Regions from separate parts of the Homo sapiens genome. Here region 1 is linked to region 2. A link means that fine-mapping ties the variant in region 2 to the expression of a gene that starts in the linked region. Tissue or cell type: whole blood. Region 2 holds a variant in brackets; the other region holds the start of a gene. All regions are shown on one strand. Distances are between the middles of the regions.

Region 1 (2,687 bases), 160 kb after region 2:
GGCAGCGCGCGTCCCCCGCTGTACACACACACCTGACTACCGCTGCGCCCCGAGCGGCCACGGCCGCCGCGGCACCTCCACTGCCCGCGCTCGCGGTGTGTCGCACTCAGCCAACACGCAGCCAAATCCCGGCCCCGCCGCTCGCTCTCCGGGTAGCGGTCCAGGGGAGAGGGCCGGCAGCCTCGGCAGCGGGCGGGGATACCAGATCCGCCAGGGAGGTGCCGCAGCTCCGCTTCAACTCCTGGCAGGGAGAGGAGGAAGCGGCGGCGCAGGAGGGCAGCGGCGAGGCTCGGCGCTGGGGAGCCGGGAGGGGTGGAGCGTGAGGATCCGCGGCCGGTAGAGAGGGGCGCACTAGGCAGAGGGGTGGGCAGGACCGGCAAGGAGTACAGGACTTCGGGGACAAACGCAAGACCGCGCGGGCAGCAGGGGCGTGGGAAGACGGGGAGGGGACCAAGGTGCAGGATCTGGGGCTAGAAGGACAGACAGCCGGCCCCGAGTGCTGAGGAGGGCGGGCGCCCAGTGGTGTCGAGGGCGACTTGGGGCGCGCGGCGGCAGGCAGCGGGGAAGCCGCCGCGAGGGCGTCCAGCAGGGCTCAGCGCGGCGCTCAAGTTCGGGGCTGGGAGCTCTGAATCCGAACAGCCCAGCGTGGGCAGAGGTCGTGCGCTGCGCGTACGGGAGACCGGGGAGAGGAATCGCCGGGAAAAGCAAATGGAGGGTGAAACTTGTGCGCCTGCCGGGGGGAGGGGAGCAGCAGGCGAGTGCGGGCAGGAACACGAGGCGGGGCAGGAAAGCCGCGGCGGCCGCGAGGCGCTGGGGACGCGGCAGCGGGAGGGAGGCCCCCGGCCCCCGGCGCGCAGGTCCTGGCCCTGGCGCGTGTTCGGGGCGAGGGCCGAGGGTCTCGTGGGCAGGAGTCTCCGCGCCCTCCCGCGAGCCCACACACTTACTTTCCAGCTTAGGCAGCGGCCGTCGTCGCTCCAGGGATCAGGGACATCGGCGCCGAGGGGTCGCCGCTGCGGCACCCGAAAAAATTAAAAAAGTGCCGCGGCGGCGCGGCTGCCCGCCCCTCCCTCCCCCACCGGCCCCCGCCCCCGGAGCGGCTCTCCCACCACCCCCGGCGGCGGCGGTGGCCAACTTGCCCCTCTACCCCTTGCCCATGGTGCCGCCTCCGCGGCCGGCGTCGACGCGGACTCAGCCCCGGAGCCCCCTCTACTGCCCAGAGGCCGCCGCCGCCGCCCGCCCCGCTGCCAGCCCTCCCGCCCGGCCAGCCCCGGGCTCCCGGGAACGTCAGCACGCCGCCGTCCCCGGGCCAGCTCCCGCCACCCCATTGGCGGGAAGGAGAGGGCTGGCCCTCCCCATTGGCCCGGCCCTCATATTGAACAGGCCAATGGGAGCTGCGGTTTCAGGTCGCCATAGAGACCGATGCTGTTCAGCGCGAGAGGGCCTGGAGAGGGTGGGTGTGAGAGAGAAGGTGTCTCAGGTCTCGGGCGCGGGAGGGGGTGGCGGAGAGGACAGGGAGATTCCCCAGCGCTGGCTCTGAAATCTGGGGCAGGCTTTCCTTGCCTTACTGCCAATCCCAACTGTGCCTGGTAGGGTTTGTCCCTGGCGTCAAAGGTAGGAACAGCTGAGCCCTTAGATGTACCCCTGACGGCGAGAGCCCAGGAGTGGGCGTTTCACTTTTCCTGCGTTTGGGGAGTCCCTGAGGCTATGCCCTTTGACCTTTGACATGTGTGCAGCTTCTGCTTCTCCAGGTGAGTTTGCACCCCATCCCTTCCATCGCTGCTTCCTCCTGACGTCACTGAGCCACCTAAATCCTACTTATGTTTGTTCTCTGCAGCCACTCCCCCTTCCCTGGGGTGGATCTTTCCTCAACGTTTTGGGTCCTCAAACTCATAACTCTTCTGAAAGACTCAAAGAGGATTTCCTTTGAGGATATTTTGGTAAGGGAACGAGGTGGCGGATTGTATGATAGATGCCAAAGCGTCAACACATGAGCTAGCCTGTTCCCTGATTCTCAAAGCAAACCTCTAATCTCCCTGTGGGCAGATATTTATTAAACACATCTGTGTGTACATCCCGCACTATGAGCTTGACAGGTGCATGTTCTTTCACTTGAGAGGTTACAGGCTTGTTAAAGATAGAGGAAACAGAAACAATCCTTCACACCTTGTGATGATTTCACAAAAGAGTAAGGGAAATGGATTACAGTTGATGGATTTTGTTTTCTATTTTCCAGTATCTCTTTAAATTTGATATGGAAATAACCTGAGGCATGAAATCAGTACACGCAAAAATCTTGAGCTTTAATAATGTCTTCTACTTTCATTTAAAATCATTTTGTGGTGGTTTATCAATACTAATTGTTTTTTGTCAATAAATTTTATGTTTAGATATCACCTTCTTAAAGTGAGATTTCATGAACATATTAGGCTTTAAAAGATGATATTGCTCTAGCCTATAGCCACTGATATTCTTACATTCTTTTGGCGATTTTACTTTTTTTAGACTAATCTCTTTAGTAAGGAGACTATGTTACTACCCCTCAAATTGGAGGGACCATATTGTGTGAAAAAGCTGATAGGATTTTGGAAATTACAAATATTTTGTTGGGAGAAACAGGTTAATGTGTGTGCAAGCTGCATATGTCTAAGTATTGTTCTGAATTTTAAGTTGGGTGATATGCTTTGCTA
Region 2 (2,687 bases):
TTACCAAATATAGAAATGGGAATATCTGTCAGTGGGAGATACAAAATAAGATTCCTTTTGTTAAAAACCAAAAAAACCTTCTTAAAAACACAAACCTATAAAGGATGATATTCACTATCAAAAAGAAAGAAACGATTCTTTTGAAATAAGATCTTCTATATTTTTCCACTAGTTATTTTTTTTTTTTGTAAAATATACTAAGATAAAGCCACATGCAGACTAACTTTGTCATAAGAATGAAATGTGAAATTATAGAGGGTGGCTTTCAGATGTTTCCCAAAGCAACAGTTGTAAATTGAGGATCGAAGGCTCTGTGTTTTGAGGAGGTGGTAATAGAAAAAGAAGGGTTTTCAGACTTGACAATTTCTATTTTATTTTAGATAGTAGCACATTTCTTCACATATCACTAAAAGCATGAGAAAGTTTAAATATTTGGCATGTTTATATCAAACATAAAATATTAAAGGCTAAAACTGGATTCTTGATTTTCATATAATGTGCTTTTGGGAATCTGTTCATATATCATGCATAAGTGGCTTTGGAATATTTAGATGTTATGTTTGCTAGGGCAAAATCTAATATTCTTATTTGGTGGTGGCCCACGATAAACATATTGAGACATCTATCGTTCTAAACTTGAAAGGCTGATCTTCTGTATAATATAGGTAATTTGTTCGATAAAAATTCATTTAATAAAATCCCAAATATGTGGAAACTACAAATTAAGTAATATCCACTGGCTGGGAAACTCATGCATCCATTTCATAGTTGGTTTCTTCATATCATTTATGTCAGGGCTGACCTTCAGAATATGGTCAAAATTTTGCTGGCTTTACCATGTCACTCCAGCACACCATTTTTGCCTTGATATTTCAAAACTTTTGTTTAAAGCATTTGTATTTAATTTTTTTGTAATTGAAGTTTTAAACATATATAAAAGTTCTACTTTATGCATACTTTTTTCCATTATCTTTTTCCTTTGTTGTAGAAGTTCAAAACAAATCTCTCACGTCGGATCATTTCAACTCTAAATACTTCCATTTGTATCTCTATAAAATAAGGACTTCATAAAACCATAATTATTCCATAATGCCATATAGTGTGTTCAAATTCAAATTTTTCAGATGTCTTGGAAATGTGTTTCTTCAGTTGGCTTGTACTCGTCAAGCTGAAATAAGGTTTCCTGATTGCATTTGAGTACAACTGATTTAAGTCCCTCAATTTA[G/C]AAAGGGGCACCCATTCCTTCATTTTCATGTTTTTGATGAACTGAGGAAACTGCAGCAATACACTTTTAAGTTGTTCCACATCCTGAATTTATCTGATGGTTTTCTCATGTCATTTACTTATTCCTCTAAATACACTATTTCTTTAAGCAGAAGGTTATAGCTAAAAGCTTTCAGGTCAAGCCTTTGTGGGTAGCATACTTTATGAATGGTGCCATGTACATCACACCTTTCACATTACAACTTTCAGGGTTGCTAAGATCTATCAGGCAATGCAGGTAGTGGCAGCCTAATCCTCTGTCAAGTTTACCACCAATCTGTCTCCTAATGCGATGGTTCTCAGCCTTGGTTGTACAATGCAATCACCTGGGTTGAAAATTGGGTGGAATTTTAACACTATTGCTGTCCAAGTCCCACACTCAGAGATTCCAATTCAATCAGTCTAAGCTGTATTCTGAATAATGGAACTTTAAAAAACTCCCAGGGTGATTCTACTGTGCAGCTAGGGTTGGGAACTTAAGAGGTTTTAGCATCCACTGACAATCTTTGCTTGAATTATTTCATTAGGGCTTGCAAACTAGTGATTTTTCTAATTTTGTTATTCTTTCTACATTTATCAGCAGGAATTCTTTTGGAATATTTTACATAATAGCTAGGATTATTTACTTATCCTGAAATATGAACAGGACAGGCAGGATAAATTTTTAATTCTTCTCTTTAATGACTAGGTTTTAGAATAAAGCAGTGGTTCTCAAACTGTGCACACTGGAGTCACCTGGGGACTCGTTAAACCCCACTGACGCCTGGTTCCCAACTCAGACTTTCGAACTAAATTGTGTGGGGGTGATGCCTGGGCGTCAAGATTTTAGTAGCTCTGCAGGTGACTCTGAAGTATAGCAGTGTGTAGGAACCTCTGGAGTGAGATGTTGGCACCCACAATTATATCCAGTGGTGATTTTTTAAGTTTGTTTTTTGCTTGATTTGGTAGTGGTTGTTGCATTTTTCATGATAGAAAAATGTATCTGATCATTTTGAGCCAGCTATGAAGACAGAAGAAAGCCAAACTGACAGGAAACAGTATGATACTTTTACTATATTCTAAGGTCATGCTGATCTCCAATCTCCATGAGAACGAGTTAATTAGCATGATGGTCCGGGGTATGCTCAAGTTTCCATGGAGTGTTATGATTTAATGAATAGTTAATAATGATATTTAAAAATTATCTTACTTTGTTCAATCTGTTCCTGTTTTATGATATAGAGAAATTTGAAACAAATGTTTTTGTTAAAGCCTAGTAACTTATTAAAATTTTAAATAATCATGAAGATTTACATTCCTGTACTCTGGTAACATAGTAAGTGTAGATAGGACTACCAGGTGCTATCAGTAGGAGCATAAATTGTTAAGCTTTCTGGTGGGCAAACTGACAATATTTGTCAAAATTAAAATGTATACACCCTTGT

The links. PIP is the estimated chance that this variant, and not a neighbour inherited with it, causes the effect.
Region 1: PKP4 starts here. The variant in region 2 is fine-mapped to the expression of PKP4 in whole blood (TOPMed, PIP 0.96).

The regions. Positions count from the first base shown.
Region 1 is chr2:158,455,476-158,458,162 of GRCh38, reverse strand. It overlaps PKP4 (plakophilin 4), which reads right to left and starts at 1,211. Exons shown (of 22, transcript NM_003628.6): 1 at 945-1,211. CCDC148 (coiled-coil domain containing 148) reads left to right here and starts at 1,410. Exons shown (of 14, transcript NM_138803.4): 1 at 1,410-1,748. The coding sequence starts at 1,724. LOC124907900 reads left to right here and starts at 29. Exons shown (of 1, transcript XM_047446754.1): 1 at 29-1,032. The coding sequence starts at 709. The coding sequence ends at 1,032. RefSeq lists silencers at 212-431, 462-521, 542-591, 842-891, 1,112-1,481 and 1 more.
Region 2 is chr2:158,612,512-158,615,198 of GRCh38, reverse strand. The region is part of intron 4 of PKP4 (plakophilin 4); the gene reads right to left. Among named protein-coding and RNA genes, the nearest start is that of PKP4-AS1, 120 kb to the left of the region's middle. The variant G/C (reference allele first, on the strand shown) is at 1,226.